7 linked regions of the Homo sapiens genome follow. The protein of the gene in region 4 purifies or fractionates together with the protein of the main gene of each other region. This does not show direct contact. Each region holds a gene or a part of one and is shown on either strand. Other genes may lie near its edges.

Region 1 (3,500 bases), on a different chromosome or scaffold from region 4:
AGCAAATGCTGTACCCAGGCATTATGTCTCTCTGGTCTCTGCAATCTGGAACATTCTTCCTCCTTTCCTTGGTTTTCATGACCTTGACATTTTGGAAGATTACAGGGCAGTCATTTTGTAGAATGTTTATGATATGGGATTGTGCAGTGCTTCCCCAGGATCAGACCCTGGGCTCACTGCCTAGGTGAGAAACTCCCAGAGTGATGATGCGTCCTGATTCATGTGGCACATAGGGTCCATCTGTCCCATTGGTGGTGGTGGTGGTAACATTGATCACTTGGTCAAGATGATGTTTGCCAGCTTTTCTGTATACAAAGTTGTTTTTGACTAGGTAGTGGCTCATGCCTATAGTCCCAACAGAGGCTGAAGCAGGAGGATCACTTGAGGCCAGGTGTTTGAGACCAGCCTGGGCAACATAGCAAGACCCCATCTCTACAAAAGGTCCTGCTGGCCTTTACCTGAGATGCCCATCTGCCTTTAACTCGTTAAACAAGAAAAAATTAAAAATAGAAAATTAGCCAGGATTGGTATCAGGTGCCTGTATTCCCAGCTGCTCCAGAGGCTGAGACAGGATGATTGCTTAAGCCCAGGAGTTTGAGACTCCTTATCTCTTAAGGAAAGAAAGGTTACTTTTTGTCCTTTGTTACTAAGTATTTTGTGGAGCGATACTTTGAGACTAAGTAAATATCTTGTACCTCATCACACTCATCTTCTAGTTAGATCACTATGATGGTTGCCCAATGATGACTCTTTAAATCCCATTCTTCCTACTACTGGAAGGAAGAGTTTTCTCTCCATTTATTTAGTTTATGTCACTGTGGATTCATAGATTCAAATCTGATACTTGATAATCTGTTGGTTTCATTATTTATTTTTATCTTTAACTTTCCCACATTTGGCCCAAGGGAGACTCTTCAAGCTGCCTCTTGTGTCCTTCTCACATGTCCTTTCATTTTATGAACACTTCTTTGCTTTCTTACAGAATAAGACATGCCAGGCTTGTTTTGTACTTTGCCTGCTTCACTGTGGAGTCAGCCATTTCCCCACAGAGCCCAGCCGTTTTAGTGAAGACTGGTATTTAGAGACCAAGATCCATGCACTCAGTGTGCCCATTGCTTTGTGGGGTATCACCACTTCTGGCCCTCTCAACAGACAATGCTACACACATGTACATATACCCACTCACCTCATATATCTATATTTACCTCTATATCTGTGTCTGTATCTGCTGAAACCAGGAATTCCCATCATTCGCTCCTGTTACACTCTAGCACTGTGTTCTAGCTTCAGTGAGAAACCTGACTCTACTCCCTGCCCTGCCTGGCCACTATCACTGCCCCTTCCAGACCACCCTCCTTGCAGGAGTGAACTTCAAAAAATGTATATTAACATTGATTTTAAAATTTTGCAATAAAACCTTATCAAAGAAATTAAAATTAGCCAGGCACAGTGGGTCATGCCTGTAATCCCAGCACTTTGGGAGGCAAGGTGGACTAATCACCTGAGGTCAGGAGTTCAAGAGCAGCCTGGCCAACATGGTGAAACCCCATCTCTACTAAAAATACAAAAATTAGGTGTGGTGGCACACACCTGTAGTCCCAGCTACTCAGGAGGCTGAGGCAGGAGAACTGCTTGAACCCAGGAGGCGGAGGTTACAGCGAATGGAGATTGTACCACTGCACTCCAGCCTAGGTGATAGAGTGAGACTCTGTCTCAAAAAAAAAAAAGAAAAAAAGTGCAAATCTTTCCACTTCTAATTTTCCATTTCCTATAAATATTTGAAACAATATGAGGAGAGATACAAGTCCCAGTGTATCTTCCTGGTGAATTGCTTTTAGATGATGTAAGCCCTCTTTCTCATGCACTGTGTCTGATGATAATATTGCTCCAGCAGCTTTCTTTTGGTCAGTTGTTAAGTACATCTTTTTCCATCTCTTTGAACCTTTCAGTGTCCTTGTGTTCCAGATGTGCCTCGAGTTTGAGACCAGCCTGGGCAACAGAGCAAGACCTCATCTCTACAAAAAAAATTAAAAATAGAAAATTAGGCAAGAGTGGTGTCTGGTGTCTGTAGTCCCAGCTGCTCCAGAGGCTGAGGCAGGATGATTGCTTGAGCCCAGGAGTTTGAGGCTGCAGTGAGCGGAGATTGGTACCACTGCACTCTAGCCTGGGCAACAGAGCAAGACTCCATCTCAAAAAAAAATTAAATTATCTTTCTAGAACAGATAGATTAATATGTTTAGTTATTGACATTTTAAGTCAGCTATCTCAGATATAATGGTAAAATGCCAAGTAGAGTGCTGTGTTGGCAAGGATGTAATTTAAGCATTCCCTATTTCATGAGAAAGGGGTTATGTGCCAGATACAAATGTAATCTGTCTGTCTCTTGCATTTCAGGGCACCACCAAAATCAACACTTTCAACTGGTCCAAGGTCCGTAAACTAAGCTTCAAGAGGAAAAGATTTCTTATCAAACTTCATCCAGAGGTTCATGTAAGTATTATTTTCAACTTTTTATTTTTATTTTATTTTATTTATTTATTTATTTATTTTTTTGAGACGGAGTTTCGCTCTTGTTGCCCAGGCTGGAGTGCAATGGCATGATCTCGGCTCACCGCAACCCTCTGCCTCCCGGGTTCAAGCGATTCTCCTGCCTCAGCCTCCCAAGTAGCTGGGATTACAGGCATGCGCCACCACACCTGGCTAATTTTGTATTTTTGTAGAGACAGGGTTTCTCCATGTTGTTCAGGCTGGTCTCGAACTCCTGACCTTAGGTGATCCACCCGCCTTGGCCTCCCAAAGTGCTGGGATTACAGGCTCACAAAGTGCTGGGATTACAGGCGTGAGCCACCATGCCCAGCCTATTTTGACCATTTTTTAACTCATAATTTATTCTGCTAAAACATAATTACTTTGTAAATCATTTCAGCATAATGCACACAAGAACTCAAGGACAGGATTCGGGACTTAGGTCTGGAGGGGCTGAGGGCAGTCTGCCTAGCTGGTCTCACACTTACCTCCCCCAGGAACTTTGTCACTCACGTGTTGCTGGCTCAAAACCCCAGGGTTTCAGCTTCAGCGGGTCTGGGATGAACCCAAGAAGGTGCACATCTGACAAGCTCCTAGGGGTTGCTAAGAACCATGGTTATTGCAGCCTCTTTGTTCTCTAGGTAAGGAAGCTGAAGAACAAAGTGCTCAAAATGATCTGAAGCCCTACAGCAGCTGAGAGCTTCAGAATGAACTGAGGAGTATCCCCAGTGTTCTCTTGTGTCCTTCATTCAGAAATTGATCTTTGAATAGCTCTAATTGAAGAAGCCTTGATTATCAGGGAGTAAATATTCCCTTCTTTACTGACTGCTCATTAATAAAATAATAATTACATATGAATTTACTGAAATGAGTAAAAATGGAAAAAATAAATGCCTGTGCAGTGTATTTGGTAAAATCCAGTACTTCCAGTTATTCAAAGATGTTCCAGTTGCTGCATTTCCGTTGTACAAAAG
Region 2 (3,960 bases), on a different chromosome or scaffold from region 4:
GCCTTCCCTCAGTTCCTTCAGTGCCACTCAGGCCTGGCTGCGAAGATACAGATGGTATATGCGAATTACATATAAGTAACTATATGCAAAATTATTTTTCCCTGGTGTGTCATTGTGCCAGCGTGTTTGGATTAGAAGTGATTTCCAGGAATCCTTCCCTGCGTCTTCTAGCTTCTGGGGGCTCTTGGCCTTTCTGGACTTTCATGGATCATGACCACATCACTCTAATTTCTGCCTCTGTGTTCCAGCACCTCACCCCCTGTGTGTTGTGTCTTCTCTTCTCTCTGCTGTGAGGACAATTGTCATTGGATTTGGGGCCTATCCAGATATACCAAGATGATCTCATCTCAAATTCTTTTACTTCATTACATCTGCAAAGAGCCTTTTTCCAAATAAGATCAAGTTCACAGGATCTAGGGATTTCTATATGGACCTATCTTTCTTGGGGGCCAACATAACCCCCTACATGGTATAGGTGAAATAAGATTATTTGCAATTGATGAATCCAGGTGATGAATACTTTCAGATTTGTTATATTATGGGCAATTTGAGTGACGCAAAGAGGATAGCATATGCAAATAGGGTCTCTGGATTTGTCAGATAAAATACAGGATACCCACCTAAATGTGAATTTCAGATAAACAATAAATAATATTTCAGTATAATCTGGTTTCATACCGTGTTTGGAACATAGCTATAACTAAAAAATTGTTGATTGTTTGCCTGAAATTCACATTTACATGGATGTCCTATATTTTATTTGGCAACCCAGTAAGAAAACGGTGGCATCAGCTTGCCCTTCACAGACATCCTCTCCCAGCTATGCTCACAATAGAGATTTTTCAGTTGCCCTAGTCTTTGCACCCAACTCATGAAAAAAAGCATCTTTAAAAAGCCAGTTTCTGCTGACTTGCAAAAAGAGCAAAATCTCGGTGAAATGTATTGTGTAAACTTTGATTGCCAACCTTGAAAAGGAACACATTAACCAGTGTCTTCTGATAAGCAGATCACTTGCCTCATGTCTTAGAATCCAGTAGGTGGCCCCTTGGCCATGAAATGTGTGGGAGTGGCTTTTCCCTAACTTGACTCTTCTTTCAGTGGGAGAGAACTATTGAGAGGAACAAAGAGCTTATAAATACATTAGGACCTGGAATTCAGTTGTCGAGCCAGGACGGTGACAGCGTTTAACAAAGTAAGTACTGATCTTATAAATTTCTCTACATTGCCTCACACCCTCCTCTCTAGCCTCCTAGAAAAATATGCTAATATGTGTCCTTAGCACAAGGAAAAGTCTGTTTTTACTCATATTGTGCCGTCTTGGTGTGCTTGGGTGACAGTTCAAGAATTGTTTATTTCTTTTCTGTTGGATACATCTTTACAGAATTGTAAAAATGAAGAATTTAGAAAACCAGGGCTTCAGCATTTAATGGTATGGGAAACAATGACATGAAGAGAAAAAAGAAATGGTAGCATTTTAAACAATCTGAGAATAATCAGTGCTGGAAGAAGTGGCAATGTATGCAAAAATTTATTTCTCTGTGTAAGTAGTCAACACACAATTGTAAATTGTGACACTGTAATTCTATATTGGCTGTGAAAATACAAAACTCAGGTTTAGTATAATTAGAATAAATTAGTTTGAATGTCAGGAGAACTAGATTCTAGTTGAGCCTTTGCCACTAATTAGCTCAAAGACAAGTCATATTCTGTCTCTGGAGTTCTACCAACTCATGGCCAATATAGAGGATAGCTAAGAAAGAGGCTCCGACTGTTGCTGCCCTTTAAACTGTGTAATTCTTTGAATGGAGATCTGTCCTGCTCACTCTAGGATGTTTCTAGGCATCCCTGGCCTCTACCTATCTGATTTGTAACCCCCTTTCCCTCCCCGCAGATATGACAACCCAAAATGTCTCTAGACCTTGCTCAATGTCCTCTGGAGCAGAGGAGCAAAATCCCCCTGGTTGAGAACCATGGGACTACATGACCTCATGGGGCTAAGCAAGGCTGTGTTACTGATGTGCCCCACTGCTTGGACATTCACTGAAAATTTCCTGTTAATCCAGGTGGACTGATTAGTGAATATCAATATCTTCTGTACAGGAGCTAAAAAGGAAAGAGAGAGAGAAACAGAGAGCCATCATATGACAGATTTGATATAAGTCTGGATTCATATAAAATCTTATTCCTACTCGAGTTCTATGAACAAAATATAGAGAACCAGAGAAATGGATACAAGACAGATAATAGATGATGAAGAGACAGATTACAAAGAGATAGATACATAGAACGATTGATAGATAAAATAATACATACATGGATGGGTAGACAGAGATTATAAATAGATACATATACATAGATTGTTGGTCAGTAAAATAATTGATGGATAGATAGATCAAAGAAAGAGGATCCATGGGCTACTCAATATGTCCAGAGACTCACCCATCTTCCAAGCACTGGGACAAGAGCAAACACCCATTGCTGTGTTCCTACTATGAATTTTTTGTACATTATCTCATTTAACTTTCTCAACAACCCTCAAAAGTAGAAATAACTATCTCTATTCTAAGAAGAGAAAATTGAGGCTCAGAGATTAAACAACCTACTGCATTTATGAATCTCATAATGGAAGGAGTCATAGTTTATCTCATTCTCCCTTCTCTCTGATAAGAAACAGTGTCATTGGGACCACCTCAGAGATGTAAATGTAACTCCTTTAATTTACTCCTGGAATTATGAGAGCTTATATTCCTTTCAAAACAAGCCCATTTTTTAATTGATGTAAGTTAATTATTGATGTAAAGTAATTATACTAGTCCTCAACTCACTCTGATTTTTAGGTTGTCAAATCAGAGAAAGTCACAGTTTTATCAATTTTTTCTTCCAAGCAAGCCCCTGAAAAGTTGCTAACAGGAGGAACTCAGGAATTAGATGTTCCCCTCTCGTCCTCTCCTTCCAACATTTATTTGGCTAATATATATTTAATAGGAAAATACAAAACAACTTCTCAGACAGGAGCTGAGAGCCAGGTTATGAGGTGGAGTGGAAAAGCTCTGGACCTGCAATCAGAAGTTAAGGCTGACCCAACACTCACCAAGTGTGCAGCATGAGACAGGTGCTTTAGCTCTCTGAAACTCAGTGTGCCCATCTTTAATTTGGATAATAGGAGCCATTTCCCAGGGTTGTTGCGGAAGGTAAACACACTCCCTAGATATTGACTATGAATGAGGAGCATGTGTGTGTGACCCATGGCAAATCCTTGAGCTCTCTGGTTCTCATTTTCTGTTGACCCAACAAAGCTCAATGGTAACCTATGTCTCAGTCTTAGCCTGACCCTTGGAAACCTCACATTGAGAAAGTGATATGCTAGTTATCAGCAGGAGTGTTGTGATAAAATATTATGTAAGATAAAATTTCACTTCCTTTTGAAACATGATCCTCAATCAATGGCTAAGAGAGTTTAGTTTGGGGATTGGAATTACAACACTGTGAACTCTAGTCGATAACAATTAAACAAGCATACCCCATGCTTTCATCTGAACTTCACTCTCCCTTTCACTCTGTCAAATTATGCTATTTCCATTTCCCAAGTTACTTTAAATTGCTCCTGGAGTTATCATAGAAAGTACAATGTCAAAATATCTCATGACAAAACAGGTGAGTTGATTCAGTATGATTTCAAAGAATTCTTTACTTTCCAAAGGTTAATTATTGACTCCCATATTTTAAAATGAGACATTTAAAAGATTTTGATGCCTAATTTTAGTCATACATACCTTTTTAGAAATACATTAGTTGAGGCCGGGTGCAGTGGCTCACTCCTGTAATCCCAGCACTTCGGGAGGCTGAGGCGAGTGGATCACCTGAGGTCAGGCGTTCCAGACCAGACTGTCCAACATGCTGAAACCCTGTCTCCACTAAAAATACAAAATTATCCGGGTGTGGTGGCACATGCCTGTAATC
Region 3 (3,151 bases), on a different chromosome or scaffold from region 4:
CCACTGTGGAAAACAGTACAGCAGCACTTCCTCCAGAAATGTAAAATAGAATGACCATAGGATCCAGCACTTCCACATCTGGGTATACACCCAAAAGAATTGAAAGCAGGGTCTGAAATATGTGCACACCTGTGTTCATGGCAGCATTATTCATAATACCCAAAACACGGGAGCAACCTAAGTATCCACTGACAGATGAATGGATAAGCAAAATGTGCCATATCCATACAATGGAATGTCATTCAGCCTTACGAAGGGAGGACATCATGCTGAGTGAAATAAGCCAGTCACAAAAAGACATATACTATATGACTCCACTTATATGAACTACTCAAAATAGTTAAATTTATAGAGACAGAAAGTAGAATAATGTTGACAGGGGCTAAGGGAAGCAGAATGAGAAGTTAATGTTTAATGGGTATAAGATTTCAGTTTTACAAAATGACAAGAGTTTTTGGAAATGGGTGGTGGGGATGTTTTTCACCACATTATGAATTTATTTAAAATCACTGAACTATGTATTTTTAAATGGCTAAGATGGTAAGCTTTATGTTATATACATTTTACCACAGTAAAATAACAATGGGAGAAAAATGTTACCCAGGGCAAGACATACAATTTACACCTTTTATTTTTTTCACTAGTAAAGAAGAAAAAAATGAGCCACTTTCTCTGCCTGAGTTAACCAAAAGGCTTACCGAGGCAAATCAGAGAATGGCGAAATTTCCTGAGAGCATTAAGGTAAGAGTTAAAGCAGTTCATTTGGTAAAGCATCACTTTTTGTGTTATCACTTGACTATACCACATTCTTATAAAGGTCAGCTACCTCTCTGTTCAGTTTCTAAAATCTCTACCCATTCATATGTGCTTAAGAATTTAGAATCCAGGCTGGGCGTGGTGGCTCACGCCTGTAATCCCAGCGCTTTGGGAGGCTGAGGCTGGCGGATCATGAGGTCAGGAGATCAAGACCATCCTGGCTAACATGGTGAAACCCCGTCTCTACTAAAAATACAAAATATTAGCCGGGCGTGGGGGCAGGTGCCTGTAGTCCCAGTTACTCGGGAGGCTGAGGCAGGAGAATAGCATGGAGGCAGGAGAATGGCGTGAACTCAGGAGGCGGAGCTTGCAGTGAGCCAAGATCACGCCACTGCACTCCAGCCTGGGCAACAGAGCGAGACTCTGTCTCAAAAAAAAAACAAAACAAAAAAAAAGAATTTAGAATCCAATTACTTTGGTTAGCTAGAATGTTTTGTGAGACTAGAATTATCGATCACACAAGTAATTTTATACCTCAATCTTCAGAGAAACCAAATAGATTTAATAGGTAAGAAGTAAAATTTAAATTGGTGCCATGTATTAGATAGCTTACAGATGGACAGGTCTTTTTGGCTGTGGGCCCAAATATTAATAGAAGCACCATTTTTAAGGGTGGATTTGCATAGGGCTGTAGAAAGAGATTGTGCCATTGAGAAGGACATCGCAGTAGCCATCCTAGTTTTGAGTGTCATTTCTCCTTGGAGTAACTGTTGAAGAGAAAGACAGGACATTGCCTTAGGAGACAGCTGGCTCAGCTGTGTCCAAGAAGTGTCTATAGATGAACCTGAGTGACTGGTGCCTTCTGTGCAGGTGTTTGTGGCTCTTCTGCAAATGCTTCCTTATTCATCCTCATGTCATCGTCTTTCAGGCCTGGCCCTTCCCAGATGTGCTGGAGTGCTGCCTCGTCCTGCTTCTCATCAGGTCCCACTTTCCTGGCTGTCTGGCCCAGGAAATGCAGCAGCAGGCCCAAGAGCTCCTTCAGAAATACGGCAACACGAAAACTTACAGAAGACACTGCCAGACCTTCTGTATGTGAATTTTCACACACCTTGAAGAAACTGCCAAATTGAAAATGTTTGACATCTTTCACCTCTGCAGTTATGCCTCACCAGACATTCACTCTGGTCCCTAGATGTTTTTGCAGTAATCCAAAAGAATACAAACAAGGATTAAGTTTGAATCAACCCTGCCTACCCATAGACAACGGTGGATCTGACTTTAGACTCAATTGTGGTCTCCTACTGGAGGGAAGATCATGAAAAGCCCACAGTAGTTATTCAGAACTAACACCTGCAGAGTGTTGGTCATCTCTACAGCCTTAGGCAGGTTTCACCCAAAGAGGAGAAACTTCTGTCGTCACCCAAAGTGTTACATGCTTAAAACACAAGCTACCTTTGTAAATACTTCATCTGATCAGAAGTGTGTCATGCTTGTTTGAGATGGAGTTGCTGCATTTTAGGACTATTGATACCTTTTTTTAATTGTTTTTATAATATTTAATTTGAAAGAGGAGACCCTTCTCTCTCTACTCTTTCATAGACTGAAGTTTGAATATGAAATAGGCCTTAACCATCATGTTGACTCTCCTGTCAGAATTTTAGGTTGGAAATTTGGTTTTATTCTTTCATGTAATTGCTTATTTGAACAGATCACTTACTAAAGCTTTAGAAGAAGTGATTCAAATGTGTGTTTTCCCTTCAGTTTTATAACAAATGGATTGATGGCAGTCAAATAGCTCAGGAATAAATTACTGTTTCAATGGTTCTTAAACTTTCTTGGATCATAGGATCCTTTTGAGAATCAGATTAAAGCCAAAGATACTCTTTGGAGAAAAATGCATATTCCTAATTTTGCATAGATGACCTTTGGATTATTGGACTCTGACTATTGGGACCCTAAATACTATTTAATTATAAATCTTTTTTTTCTCCTCCTTGGTTATTTAAACAGTTGAACAGTGTCAGGAACAGATGTTTCTGTAATGTCACAGTTGCTAGCATGGGAAAATCAGAGTCTGGCATGGGTGTAGGAAGGAACACTCCTTTCAGATAATTGAACTGTTTTCTCTAGGATTCATTGTGAAGGCTTTTCTGCTCACGTTTGTAGTTTATTTTTCAATTAATTCCTAGGATTGGAGCTGTTGGGACAGTGAGAATGAAATTCATTTACAGGAAGTCCCAGGAAGGAGAAAGTTTGAGGCAGTTTTCAAAGACGTGTATGTGCCTAGCATTAGAGTTTAATAAACTCACAAAGGGAAATACTGTAGAATTTAGATCCTCACAGTTCTTCATACAGTGAAGTGAACTTTAGGAAGACGATGCTTTGTTACCAGGGA
Region 4 (3,238 bases):
GGGGGGAAGGGGAGGGAGAGCAATAGGGCAAATACCCGATGCATACGGGGCTTAAAACCTAGATGATGGGTTGATAGGTGCAGCAAACCACCATGGCACATGTGTACCTATGTAACAAACCTGCACGTTCTGCACATGTATCCCAGAACTTAAGGTAAAAAAAAAAAAAAAAAAAAAAAAGAAACCTAAGTTAGTAAGAAATTAAGTCTCTACCCAGGGATATGTAGTAGAAAGTGGTAGGATTGGGGTTTGAACCCAGGCAGTTTTGACTCTATCATGTAGCTTCTTAATGATTATATTATACTGTCCCCCAAGTTGTATACTAATTGCTTCTATTATGTTTCCAGTTTTATATAGACCCATATAAGCTGCTGCCACTGCAGAGGTTTTTACCTCGACCTCCAGGTGAGAAAGGACCTCCAAGAGGTGGTGGCAGGGGAGGCCGAGGAGGAGGAAGAGGAGGAGGTGGCAGAGGTGGTGGCAGAGGCGGTAAGTTACTTGGGGAAAATTTCTAATGAAATTAACTGTGACTTTCACAGCTAATTCATACAATACAATTTAGCTTTGTACATAGCAAACCTCCCTTATGGTTCTTTTTATTAAAGCTGCTTTCCAATATTGGCAGATTGTCCATAATAATAATGCTTCATTTCAACAACTTACTTAAAAAGAAGAAAATCTACTAAAGTATACTTTTGAGGGACTTCATTTCTTTGGGTTATTCATGTTTTCTTGGACATTTTAATAAACCGTAAGATTATCTTAATTTTAATTCCTTAGTTAATATTATTGAGTGTAGACTGCATGCTGAAAGCTGGTCATACATTCTTTTAATTTCCATGTATATATTTTTAATACTCAGCGAAACCTTTTGAGATAGATGATATCCTTATTTTATGAATGAGGAAACGGAGACTTACAGAAATTAATTTGCCCCAATCAAACAATTGGCAGACCCAAGAATTAAAATGCATATCTTCTGATGTCATGTCAAGAACTATTACTAATAAATTCATTACTGTGATCTCACTGTTGTGATGTATGCCTTTCCCCCAAGGTTTTGGGGTATTTTGATGTATGCCTGTTTTGATGTATGCCTTTCCCCTAAGGTTTGGGCACATTCATCATTATGGACAGCTAGGTGATGAGCAGGGCTCTGGGGAGTGGGGCTGCCATGCCCTGTGAGTAGGAGAAGGGCGAGTGATGGGGTGATGGGCAGAGCCAAAGTGGAAAGGGAGAGGAGCTGAAAGTTGGGCTTGGACAGCTTTTGTTACTGGATCAGAAAAAGAGAAGGAACGCCTCACTTTTGGCGTTTCTCAATTTAATCACCATTTCACTCCATAAAGGTATTTTTTTGTGTCCATATAGGTAGGAAAATTCTCAGGGGTACCTTCTTGAGAATTTGATGAACAGAGATTCCCCTATTCTCATGTTATGTTGAGTATCATTTAACATTTCAAAAAATTCACAGCTGTCTTATTTTTTTAAAATCTTACTTATGTAGCTCAGTTAATCTTAACTATCATATTTATTATCTTACCCCCAGAGCAAAAGCACCCATATCTGCCACCCTTTGTTGTTAGGATAAAAAGCCACAGTTCCATCAAACTATCCTTAGTTGAATCAAAAAAGTATTTATCATAAGCAAGAGCTAAGGCAATAGTCATACATTTAACAAGACTGAATCATACTTTAACAAGTTTTTCTAATTTATTGAAATGGAATAATCTGGGGTTTTAGCCTGTTGCCCAGTTGGTAAACTACTACAGTTTCTCCATTTTTATCTTCTAAAATTTTTTCCCTGATAAAATATGTGAATCTATATTTATTCATTATAATTATAGTTATTGTATTGATCTTTTTAGGCTTATCAATATAAGAGGTTATACAGTTAATAACTTAATGATTATTATATTCTATTGTTATTTAAATACTTTGCGTTATTATTTAATAAATGTTTTTTAGGTGGTTTTAGAGGTGGAAGAGGAGGTGGAGGTGGGGGCTTCAGAGGAGGAAGAGGTGGTGGTTTCAGAGGTGAGTATTTTAAAAAGTCTTTAAATTGCTTAATGTTTAAAATTGATATTATCTGGCATTTTCTGTTTTTACTTAAGTTTAATTTTCTCTGCCAGCAAGTATATAGAACACCATGGTGTTCTTTGCTTAGCCTAATTTGTGGTTTCATTTTATATCACTTTTTTTTTGCCTTTTCTTTTCAATTTTTTCACCTAATTCTAATTTGTTTTGCTTTATTATTAATTTGAAAAATAAAGGTGTAATATGAATGACAGTTAAATTTGGTAAAGTATGTTTGCTAAACATTATTGGAACTAATGCTGATTTTAAACTTGAGATTTAGGTTATAATACTATTAAAAATCCATTTTCTGTGCCCTTAATACTTTAATTTTCTCTTAATCAGGGAGAGGACATTAAGTGAAACAGTTGACAGACATCACCAGTTGACTTCTGCATTAACCTGCATGATCTGTTTCTACTATGGATTGGAAACTTGTTTCTTGAACAAGTCTTGAAGATCTTGGTCATTTTATGACAATGGATCTAAAATGTCAGCATCATGCAAAGTGCAACGGAATAGTGAATTTTGCTCTAAAAGAGCATGAACAAGTCTTTCTAATGTTTTGTACAGTGCCTGGCACTCTGTGGGTGCTCAATAAATGGATAGGAGTTTTCATTTGAAGCATATTTGAATTTTTAAAATAAAGTGTTTTATTCCCTTAAGTTATTTAGAGTGTGTTTATTAAATGAAACCCATTTTTTAAAGTAGAAAGGAATAACTAAAGCTTAAACCCAGTGAATTGCAGATCGAAAAAAGGATTTGTTTATTTATATTACTGATCTTTTAAAAAATAGACTACTGTAGCAGTACTTTAAGATAATTTACAAGTTGACACTGCCTTTCAAAACCCTGGCCTTTTATGTATGAGAAGATAGCTTTGTATTTGCCTTTTGTATTTTAATACATAAATCAGTTAAGCTGTTTCTCTAATTGCAATTAATAATTGATTTAAAAATTTTCCATATTAGTAATGTATTAAAGATGCAGTAGCTCTGTTGAAGTGAAAACTATAGCAAGAAATTTCTAAAGTTAATTTTTCTCATCCAACATAAATGGAATATTAGAAGTTTTACTGAATGTTATTTTATTTTTACTTTTTTAAAGGGACTCTAAAAGTTTAAGGTGTTATTTACTACACGTAAATATTCGTGTAGTATACTAC
Region 5 (3,500 bases), on a different chromosome or scaffold from region 4:
CCATTGTCATCATGGCCCATTCTCAATGAGCTGTTGGGTACACCTCCCAGACGGGGTGGTGGCCGGGGAAGAGGGGCTCCTCACTTCCCAGTAGGGGCGGCCGGGCAGAGGCACCCCTCACCTCCCAGACGGGGTGGCTGGCCGGGCGGGGGCTGACCCCCCCACCTCCCTCCCGGACGGGGCGGCTGGCCGGTGGGGGCTGACCCCCCGCCTCCCTCCCAGACGGGGCGGCTGGCCTGGCAGGGGCTGACCCCCCGCCTCCCTCCCGGACAGGGCGGCTGCCGGGCGGAGACGCTCCTCACTTCCCAGACGGGGTGGCTGCCGGGCGGAGGGGCTCCTCACTTCCCAGATGGGGCGGCTGCCGGGCGGAGGGGCTCCTCACTTCTCAGACGGGGTGGCTGCCGGGTGGAGGGTCTCCTCACTTCTCAGATGGGGCGGCCGGGCAGAGACGCTCCTCACCTCCCAGACGGGGTCGCGGCCGGGCAGAGGCGCTCCTCACACCCCAGACGGGGCGGCAGGGCAGAGGCGCTCCCCACATCTCAGACGATGGGCGGCCGGGCAGAGATGCTCCTCACTTCCTAGATGGGATGGCGGCCGGGAAGAGGCGCTCCTCACTTCCTAGATAGGATGACGGCCGGGCAGAGACGCTCCTCACTTTCCAGACTGGGCAGCCAGGCAGAGGGGCTCCTCACATCCCAGACGATGGGCGGCCAGGCAGAGACGCTCCTCACTTCCCAGAGAGGGTGAAAATGCCATCTTCATTATCTTGCAGCTTATAGGAAAAAGAAGCCCAAAGATGTTATGTAACTGCAGAATTATTATCCAATATAAATTTTAATAAAAAGGGGCATTCCCAAGCATACTGCTATGACAGTGCAAATTTATATTGCAACTGATTTTTATTCTACATGAGACCCTAAGTCTTTCATTTAATATTCAGAAATTTAAGTCTGATTTTGATATCCTGTGGTCTAACAGCATCTTTTAAAAGAGAGTGACCATAAGATCTGAACACGAGTTAGAAATGAATTGTTTCTGTGTATTAAGTGAATTTTTTTTTCATTAGGTGATGATGGAGTCAATGTAGAAGAAGATGGGAAAACAAAGAAAAGTCAGAAGGATGATGAAGAACAAATTGCTAAATACAGGCAGCTCTTGCAGGTTATTCAAGAAAAAGAAAAGAAAGGCAAAGAAAATGATATGGAAATGGAAATTAAATGGGTTCCAGGTAAGAATTAGATACTAAATGTTTTCTCTTTTTCGAATTTCAGCATGTTGAGTACCTTTTAAATATGAAGGAGCCGGAAATGTTTTGGTGAGGACCTTAACATCATATTTGCATACACCATTTAACTAACTTAATGACTAGCATTTTAGACTCTTACCAACTTATTTTTAATTGGTTTCTTTGATTTACTAACTATAAATTTTTCCTGTCCATTTATCAGAGTAGCTTTTCCTAGGTTTGAGCCTGTATTCTCAAGATATAGAAACTTGAATCCAGGCACCACGTGTTCTAAAGTTATTACACTTCTTTTGAATGTTTAATTCTTAAGTGACCTTTTCTTCCATAACCCCCACTAGTCCTTAATTCATGAGGTTTCACTAACACAAAATATGTATTACATAGTCTTCGATTTTCAATCTTGCTGCGAATAGTCAAAGAAATATAGCATAGTAGAGTAAAATAGTACTAGTACAAAACTAATTAAAATCATGTCAAAGCTAAACAAAGATAAAAGCTGGGATAAATGGGATCATTCTGTAGTAAACAGCAGTTGCCCCTTTTTCATGGTTTCACTTTCTGCAGTTTGTTACCCAGTATAGTACAATAAGATACTTTGAAAGAGAAAGAGGAAGAGAGATTATATTCATATAACTTTTATTACAGTGTAATTATTCTGTTTTATTGTTGGTGTTGTTAATCTCTTACTGTGCCTAATTTATAAGTTAAACTTTATCATAGCTGTAGATGTATAGGAAAAAACATACTAGCTATAGGATTCAGTACTATCCATGATTTCAGACATTCACTGTGGGTCCTGGAATGTATCCTCCTCAGATAATGGGGGACTACTGTACACATTTTTTTCAACATTGTTGGGCAAATCATCAGGGACTTCTGCAGTCAATACTGTTTTTATAGATTACTGCTGTTTATATTATATATGTGTATAACTTTTAAAACCAGATATATTTTTGGATAAGGGTTCAGTTCTTTAGCCTATATTAGTCACTAGGAGAAAGAGTACTAACCAGTTGTAGGAATACCATTGCTTAAAACTTAAAGGTGTTCTGTTACCAATTCCATTTTTATAAGTAGCGTGCTTTTGTATTGGGAATAAAACATATGTTTGCGTGGGTTTTTATTTGGGAAAAAAATAGGGTATTTTGATATTTGAGGATTGACTGGCTATTGTAGTAAATTTGCTAGGATGGACACTGGCTATTGTAGTAAATTTGCTAGGATGGTCTGCTGCATATTCCTACAGGAATGAAGTGCTGTGTTGCAACCCATTTGTTTTAAATGTTTGGCTTTTGCAGGAAGTGGTGGTAAGAACGAATGAAGTTTACTGGTGTATCATATGACAAGTGGTTGGGAGAACTCAATTGATTTGGCCTGGAGAGGAAAAGTCTAAAAAGTGATTTTAACAGCTATTTTTAAATACTTGCAGAATATGTAAATGAAGACTTAATCTCTTTTATTACCTCACAGGTTAGCAGTACTGCCAGTGGATAAAAGTTGAAGGAAGGTAGATTTTAACGTAATAATATAAAGAGGAATTCTCTATATTATTAGAATTGTCTCGCAGAAGAACTGAAGGCTGCTTTAAGGGGTTGAGCTCTCTGTGTCAGTAAATCTCCACCATAAGGCTACATAATTATGCTACTCAGAGATGTCTGTTAAGAAATATTTTACTTGAGTCCCTTGACTTTATGATTCTAAGAAATGTTGAATTCTGTCTTTTAAGTTGAATATATTGTAGTTTAATTCTAATCTTAGAATGAGCTTATTGAATATATTTTAATATGAACATTTTTAAATTGAAGTGTTCAGTTGTCTGAGAAAGCAGATCTAAAATAAACTGGATTGAGGTGTTTTATAGCAAATATTTCAGAAATATATAATGCCAGTTGTAAGGTACAGATATATGATACAGGTTCCCACACTAAGTGGACCACATCTAGATTGTGTCTTTATTAACATAATTATGAAACCGGGCACAGGGGCTCACACCTGTAATCCCAACACTTTCAGAGGCCAAGGTGGGTGGATTACTTGAGCCTCAGATGTTCGAGACCAGCCCGAGTAGCATGGCAAAACTGTTCCATCTCTACAAAAAAATACAAAAATTAGCTGGGCATGGTGGCACACGCCTGTAGTCCCAGCTACTGGGGAGGCTGAGGTGGTAGGATCACCTGAGCTCAAGGAGGTTGAGGCTGCAGTTAGCTGTGATCATGCCACTGCACTCCAGCCTAGGCAACAGAATGAGACCCTG
Region 6 (3,500 bases), on a different chromosome or scaffold from region 4:
ATACCGTTCAAGATACAACACCTTTTTTCCTAGAAATCAGTTTGATAAGCAAAAGCAAATTACTCAAGTAAATGTCTTGTATTACCCATGTCCAGTGCAAAAAAAAAAAAAAAAAGAAAAAGAGGAGAGGAAACTGAACATACTTTACTAAAGAGTTCTATGTATTTTTTTTTTTTTTTTTTTTTGAGATGGTGTCTCGCTCTGTCACCTAGGCTGGAGTGCAGTGGCGCGATCTTGGCTCACTGCAAGCTCCGCCTCCTGGGTTCACGCCATTCTCCTGCCTCAGCTTCCCGAGTAGCTGGGACTACAGGCACCTGCCACCACGCCCGGCTAATTTTGTAGTTTTAGTAGAGACGGGGTTTCATCGTGTTAGCCAGGGTGGTCTCGATCTCCTGGCCTTGTGGTCCGCCCGTCGGCCTCCCAAAGTGCTGAGATCACAGGCATGAGCCACCGCACCCGGCCTTTTTTTTTTTTTTTTTTGAGATGGAGTCTCACTCTATTGTCCAGGCTGGAGTGCAGTAGCGCCATCTTGACTCACTGCAGCCTCTGCCTCCCAGGATCGAGCTATTCTCTGCTTCACCCTCTTGAGTAGCTGGGATTACAGGTGCCTGTCACCACACCTGGCTAATTTTTGTATTTTTAGTAGAGACGGGGTTTTGCCATGTTGGCCAGGGAGGTCTCGAACTCCTGACCTCAGGTGATCCACCCGCCTGGAGTCCCAAAGTGCTTTACAGGCATGAGCCACCACTCCCGGTGAGTTCTACATTTTTGATCTGTGCCATCTTGAATAGCCTTAGCTGACAAAAACATGAAATGTAAATTATATTAAAATGTCCTTTATGTGCATCTGTATTTTGTTAATGCCATGTGTTTTAGATTCTTATTTGTAATCTTTAGGACTTTATTTAAAAGCTTTCTTGTGACATTTGTGATGTATTGATAGTGTGAGAAATTACAAAAACTAAGATTCTGTTTTATTGTAAAGTATACAAAAAGAATCTTATTTCATGGTTTTATGTTTCTCTTCTACTTGGCTTCACAATGATCCGAACTTGCAGCTTTTAAATGAGAAAAGCTTCCTATTTCATTGTGTACTTTTGTTTGTGTAACATTTTGTGGAAATGACTGCTTATTAAAATGACACTTCACAGACTTGGACTAACGTTCATGATATCATGGTGTCTTTTGGAAGAAGGGTGTTGTGTTACCCACTCTATCGCCATTTCAAGCTGGTGATGAAGGCCTACAGGGACACTATAAAGATATTGCAACTGGGTAAGATATTACTGTACTTGCAAATTTGGGAGGGAAAAAGTTGTAAGTTTTTAGTCTGTGAAGATATAATAATGATTTTTGCTTTTTTACTGTATATAAATAAGTAATGAAAAATGAATCCAACCACTTTTAAAGTATAGAATTCCTGTGTATAAGACATATGTAGATAAGTAATTGCATAGAGGCATAATAAAGACTCTTTTCCGAGAGGAGTAAGGAAGGTAAACAGAGAAGGCACACATAGTATTGCAAACCGTTTTACATTATAATAGCTGCATCATTCAGTATTTCTTGGCTGCCTATAATCTTCTAGGCTCTATGGTGGGACTGTGGGTCTAATAATAAAGAAGGCAGAAAAGTTCCCTGCTCTGTTGAAGTTTACAGTTTTGTCAGACAGATGATGGGTAAGTTAGCAATTCCAAAGAGAGTGAAAAGTACTCTGCTGGGAGAAGTCCAGGGATCGTTTAGGAGGGGACATGTAACCTAGATTCGGCATGTCAAGAAAGATTTTCCAACAAAAAGCTCAGCTACTCTGAGCACTTTTGACTTGCTAAATTCAACCTGAAAAGACAAACACTCGTTAGCTTTAAGGATGTGGAAAATTCTGGGCTCTGAAACAAATTCCAAAGTGCCCATAGTATCATCATTAGAATAAGTATATAATTTCCAAGATAATGACTTTGAAGGGGGCAACATCCATTTGTATGTATTAGTTCTGGCACATTTATTTAAAAGTCACTTTTAGTACTTTATGGTCATTTCTTATATTCTCCCCCTGGGGAGACTCATCATTCCTTTGCCCTTAGATAAAAGTGTTTCTGGGAGCTTGGTTTTCAGACTTCAGAATAAGAAGGGGAAAGAAAGGAAGTTCTTCCTTCTACCTCCAGGTGACTTCACTGGCCTAAAGAAGAGAATCACATCTCAAATGTTTTGTCTCACCTGGAAGTGTACTTCGCTTTCTGTGTAACCTGTAGTCTTCTTGCCCTGGTGGTGGGGATGGGGGAAGAAAATCATGTTTGAAATAGATTATTTTAAAGTAGACAGTAATTGTAAAAATGAATCATGGTTAGATGAAAGATGCCTTTTTATTCATCCAGTTGGTTTAGACTAGCTGTATTTTATTTTGAAGGATTGTTGATTATAGGATGAAAGAGCTATCATTGAGAAATCTATCTTCTTTAACTTAACAGTGGGAAACAAACTGCTTTGTTTTTTCATGTGTTATTTCTTCTTGCCTTCCATCTAAGATATTTTTTGAATTGCTAAAAGTACCTTGGAAAATCAATCTACTATAAATGACTGTGTGAGCCTCAGTTACACGTCACAATTCATTTCTTTTTTAAGTCATGCTAGATTATCTGGGCATTATTCATGGACTTAAACCAGTGAGAATGCAGTTTGCGATTATCCTGTTATATCATGGCTTCCAGATGGAGAATTGGCAAAACCTCCACATGCCTGTTTGCACACACACTCACACACTCTCACTCTCACTCACATATACAGACTATTGCTTGTTACTTTTTATTCTGGGAAGTAATCTAGTTCTTTTGACTTTCATTGGAAAAGTAATCAGTACTATGATTGCATAACCAAAAATAAATTCGATTGCCTTGACTTACACAGGAATCAATTACCCAGTTTTAGTAGGTCAGAATTGAAATTGAGACTTAATTTTTATTCATTATCACTCTGACAAGAAATAGTTTTATCAGCTGTGTTATGATAGTAACATAAAACTTGAAGTAACACACTGGAGGCCTCTGCTAAAAATGAACCTGAACCCTCTATGTACCATGTACAGTGTGTTCTGTGACTAATTTGGGTTGTGGCTAGTTAGTGCTAAAACTGAGGGCTGGGTTGTCTAGAATTTGTGCCAGAAGCTGTAGAGATGACATGTTCTGGATGAGAATCGTCACCTGTCTTTGTACAGGTGGATGGCACGGGGATGCCATTATTGCCGCTGAAGAGGCTCATTTGTTTGAACACCCCATAATTTAAATAAAGGTAGCTCTGGTTTGGCATTTAGTGTTTTCCAAGAATGAATTCATGCCTACTTATAATTCAAAATGCAGTCAGTGTTCACACTTTTTATTATAAAGGTCAGTATAGTGTTCCATAGTTGAAAGTAATGAATAACCCTGGCTCCAAAGAAGGATTGATCTTAAATGGAATGAGCTTTCAAAACCAATGTAGGAATGCTTCAGAAACTACAGAATATTTCA
Region 7 (3,500 bases), on a different chromosome or scaffold from region 4:
TCCTGGACGGGATTAGAGAATACTAGAGAAAGGATAAAAGGCTGGTTTCTGCAGGCAGAATATGCTTAGGAAAAATGGCATTGTGATTTTCCCAGAGGATAAGAGAAATTCTGTGGATTTGTAAGTACTGTACTTGCCTGATTTTTTTTTTTGAGATGGAGTTTTGCTCTTGTTTCCCAGGCTGGAGTGCAATGGCGCAATCTCGGCTCACTGAAACCTCTGCCTCCCAGGTTCAAGCGATTCTCCTGCCTCAGCCTCCCCAGTAGCTGGGATTACAGGCATTTGCCGCCATGCCCAACTAATTTTCTGTTTTTAGTAGAGACGGGGTTTCTCCATGTTGGTCAGGCTGGTCTTGAACTCCTGACCTCAGGTGATTTGCCCGCTTCGGCCTCTCAAAGTGCTGGGATTACAGGCGTGAGTCACAGAGCCTGGCCTTGCCTGATGTTTTGATAGCATGGTGGACTGGACATTTTAAAGAAGCCCTTTGTAACTGGCCTTGCTTATTGCAGATAACTGCTTAGTGTTTTTGAGAAATGCACTTTCCTCACCAGCTGAAGGTGCTACAGATAAGAGGGGCAGGTATAGTCCTGTAATGCAGGTGCTAAAGTCTTTCTACTTTGGAAGGACAGGCATTCCCTGTATTGGTTACCGTTTGCCTGGGAAGGGAGGCTGTGGGGTTTTAGGCTCTCGTGGCAGTCTCTCTCCTGTTGTTTGGTGCTTTTGATTGAAAGGAGCCTCTCCAAGCCTGGCTATTGAATGGGAAGCAGCGGATCAACTTCTTTTCTTGTCTTTTAGTGTCAGAGTTTATTCTGTGGTGGTACTGGGTCACAGTCCTTTCTCTCTGTTTCACCCATGGCAACTTAGGTAGGCTGTTACCTCCTTAACCACTTCCACATGGCCAGGAAGATCAGAGCCAAACGGTTTTCATTCAAATTACTTGAAATACTGATTTCTCCAGTCCTGTTCTGCCAAATGCAGCCTTTGTTTTCAATCAAGAAGCCCCCAGAAAACGTGTATTTAAAACTGGCAAAACTTTTTATAGGATGCCCTTGCCCTGGTTTGAATTAGTTAAAAATGTTTGGCCAAGTGGATACTTTGAGCAAAAGTGGATAATGGATACATTACTAAAATATCATGCTCGAAGCTTTTGATACTAATCCGGCGAGACTGAAACTGAGGCATGCTCAGTGCTGCCTGCAAACTGTTAACTCAGATTTTAAGTTTTCTTAGTTTAATGTGGGATGGAAATTATGAACTTCAAGACTTGCAATTAATGTGGGAATTCATCATTTACACTGAATGAATTTCATATGTAAAACTGTCATATTTGTTCACACATTAAAAAAAAGAAGAGCCTCAGGCCACACTAGACTGCCTTTAACTCTCAATTATGATAATAACCTCTGACCACAAGAGTAACTTCACTTTATGTGCAGACTTTTGACGAAATGCTTTGCATAAATTTATTATCAATTAGAAGACTTAAAAATCCAGTATTATGATGACTTTCAGTTTTTGTTCTTGTTCATTCAGGATCTAGTATAGTATCTGAATATAGCAAACCCTTGGTAAATTATTGTGTTCTGTTTTCTTTTTGAAAAAAACTCGAGGCTGGAGTGCAGTGGTGATCATGGCTCATTGCAGCCTTGACCTCTTGGGCTCAAGCAATCCTTTCATCTCAGTCTCCCGAGTAGCTGTGACTACAGACACATGCCATCACGCCCAGCTAATTTTTTCTTTAAAAAAATTTTTCTTAGAGAGTCTCACCGCTATGTTGCCCAGTCTGGTAAATCCTTGTTGAATGAATAATAAATCCAGTTTTTACCATCCCTTCAAATTAGTCTTTAGGGTTTTTAAAGGAAACTTGTTATTAGAATTGATAGATTGCAGTTCTGGCAGTTTGATATTTGATTTTGTTTTCATTTCATTCTAATTTAGCAATTGAATCCTTAAAGCTAAGTCAGATTGTAAAAAGACAGAGGTTCCTTTTCAAAAAAAAAGACAATAAGGTGCGGTGGCTCACGCCTGTAACCCCAGCACTTAGGGAGGCCAAGGCGGGCGAATCATCTGAGGTCAGGAGTTCAAGACCAGCCTGACCAACATGGAGAAACCCCGTCTCTACTAAAAATACAAAATTAGCCAGGCGTGGTGGCGCGTGACTGTAATCCCAGCTACTCGGGAGGCTGAGGCAGGAGAATCGCTGGAACCCGGGAGGCGGAGGTTGTGGTGAGCTGAGATTACGCCATTGTACTCCAGCCTGGGCAACAAAAGTGAAACTCCGTTTCAAGAAAACACAAGACAATAAAAGCATGAAGAAGAAAATAAAACAAACTTGAAATCCTGCCACCTGTTACTGACTCCTACCTTAGCATTTTGGGATCTGTTCTTTTATATAGCCTTCTCATTTCTTAACCTGCGCCAAATTTGACATTCTAATTGTTTTATATGGTACTTGTCTGTAAATTTAATGTGCTCACCATTCCTTTTTGTACTTTGAAGCTTGCTTCTGGGATACATTTTCCTTCTTCCTGAGACACATCTTCTAGAAATTCTGTTAGCATCTGTTGGTGGTAACTTCAGTTTCTGCATGTCTTAGATACCTTTGTTCTTGAATGGTAAGTTTATCTGGGTGTGCAATTCTGTATTGTTCCTGTATTAATCAGCTGTGTTCTGGTCCCATTGCTGTTGCTGTCTAATTATTTGTAACTAGTCTGCCTTTTCTCTCTGGCTACTTTTAAGATGCTTTGGTGTTCTGCAGTCTGGCTATGACATGTCTAGGTATTTCTTCTCTCTTTTACTTTTTTTTTTTTGAGTCAGGTTCTCACTCCCATTGCCCAGGCTGGAGTGCGGTGGCATGATCTCGGCTCACTGCAGCCTCAACTTCCTGGGCTCAAGTGATCCTCTCACGTCGGCCTCCCAAGTAGCTGGAACTACAGGCAAGCACCACCACACTTGGCTCATTTTTTGTATTTTTACTAGAGATGGGGTTTTGCCATGTTGCCCAGGCTAGTCTTGAACTGCTGGGCTCAAGTGATCCTCCTGCCTCGGCCTCCCAAAGTGCTGGGATTACTGGCATGAACTGCCATGCCTGGCTCTCCTTTAGTTTTATTCCTCTCTCTCTTCTTCCCTCTTCTCCTCTCCCTCTCTTCTGTTCCTCTTCCCTGCTCCCTTGCTACTGTCTTTCCCATCCTCTTTATTAGTTTATTTTCTGTTGCTCAGCAGTATTTCCGTGGCTGGATATGCTATGACTTGCGTATCCACTCCCCTTTGGCCATTCAAGTTGTTTTCAGTGTTGGCTATCATGAATACAGCTGCTGTGAACATTTGTGAACAAATCTTTGTGTAGAGATAGGTTTTTATTTTTCCTCCTGGGTCTTTAAGTGTGTGCCTAACTTTATAATAAGCTATTTGTAAGAAAGCGTTGGCACCATTTTATGTTACCATCAGTGATGTATGAGACTTCTAGTTACTCCAATCTTGATCAACACTTGAAACAGTCT

Evidence for each region.
Region 1: the proteins of GAR1 (region 4) and FARP2 purify together in Homo sapiens (affinity purification with mass spectrometry; one large-scale study listed by BioGRID and IntAct). This does not show direct contact.
Region 2: the proteins of GAR1 (region 4) and GSTA1 purify together in Homo sapiens (affinity purification with mass spectrometry; 2 studies listed by BioGRID and IntAct, with this or other methods). This does not show direct contact.
Region 3: the proteins of GAR1 (region 4) and GEMIN5 purify together in Homo sapiens (affinity purification with mass spectrometry; 4 studies listed by BioGRID and IntAct, with this or other methods). This does not show direct contact.
Region 5: the proteins of GAR1 (region 4) and ESF1 purify together in Homo sapiens (affinity purification with mass spectrometry; one large-scale study listed by BioGRID and IntAct). This does not show direct contact.
Region 6: the proteins of GAR1 (region 4) and SHQ1 purify together in Homo sapiens (affinity purification with mass spectrometry; 3 studies listed by BioGRID and IntAct, with this or other methods). This does not show direct contact.
Region 7: the proteins of GAR1 (region 4) and FARP1 purify together in Homo sapiens (affinity purification with mass spectrometry; 2 studies listed by BioGRID and IntAct, with this or other methods). This does not show direct contact.

Annotation. Positions count from the first base shown.
Region 1 is NC_000002.12:241,429,285-241,432,784, forward strand, and holds part of FARP2 (FERM, ARHGEF and pleckstrin domain-containing protein 2), read left to right. Parts: intron 1-2,394; coding exon 2,395-2,490; intron 2,491-3,500. UniProt on the Homo sapiens protein: Functions as a guanine nucleotide exchange factor that activates RAC1. May have relatively low activity. Plays a role in the response to class 3 semaphorins and remodeling of the actin cytoskeleton.
Region 2 is NC_000006.12:52,801,017-52,804,976, reverse strand, and holds the start of GSTA1 (glutathione S-transferase A1), read left to right. Parts: upstream 1-1,160; 5' UTR 1,161-1,192; intron 1,193-3,960. UniProt on the Homo sapiens protein: Glutathione S-transferase that catalyzes the nucleophilic attack of the sulfur atom of glutathione on the electrophilic groups of a wide range of exogenous and endogenous compounds.
Region 3 is NC_000005.10:154,886,911-154,890,061, reverse strand, and holds the end of GEMIN5 (gem-associated protein 5), read left to right. Parts: intron 1-644; coding exon 645-741; intron 742-1,684; coding exon 1,685-1,852; 3' UTR 1,853-2,651; downstream 2,652-3,151. UniProt on the Homo sapiens protein: The SMN complex catalyzes the assembly of small nuclear ribonucleoproteins (snRNPs), the building blocks of the spliceosome, and thereby plays an important role in the splicing of cellular pre-mRNAs.
Region 4 is NC_000004.12:109,822,000-109,825,237, forward strand, and holds the end of GAR1 (H/ACA ribonucleoprotein complex subunit 1), read left to right. Parts: intron 1-347; coding exon 348-489; intron 490-1,965; coding exon 1,966-2,034; intron 2,035-2,418; coding exon 2,419-2,432; 3' UTR 2,433-2,738; downstream 2,739-3,238. UniProt on the Homo sapiens protein: Required for ribosome biogenesis and telomere maintenance. Part of the H/ACA small nucleolar ribonucleoprotein (H/ACA snoRNP) complex, which catalyzes pseudouridylation of rRNA.
Region 5 is NC_000020.11:13,757,420-13,760,919, reverse strand, and holds part of ESF1 (ESF1 homolog), read left to right. Parts: intron 1-1,066; coding exon 1,067-1,228; intron 1,229-3,500. UniProt on the Homo sapiens protein: May constitute a novel regulatory system for basal transcription. Negatively regulates ABT1.
Region 6 is NC_000003.12:72,810,446-72,813,945, reverse strand, and holds part of SHQ1 (protein SHQ1 homolog), read left to right. Parts: exon of another isoform or gene 1-1,151; coding exon 1,152-1,275; intron 1,276-3,500. UniProt on the Homo sapiens protein: Required for the quantitative accumulation of H/ACA ribonucleoproteins (RNPs), including telomerase, probably through the stabilization of DKC1, from the time of its synthesis until its association with NOP10, NHP2, and NAF1 at the nascent H/ACA RNA.
Region 7 is NC_000013.11:98,146,094-98,149,593, forward strand, and holds part of FARP1 (FERM, ARHGEF and pleckstrin domain-containing protein 1), read left to right. Parts: intron 1-3,500. UniProt on the Homo sapiens protein: Functions as a guanine nucleotide exchange factor for RAC1. May play a role in semaphorin signaling.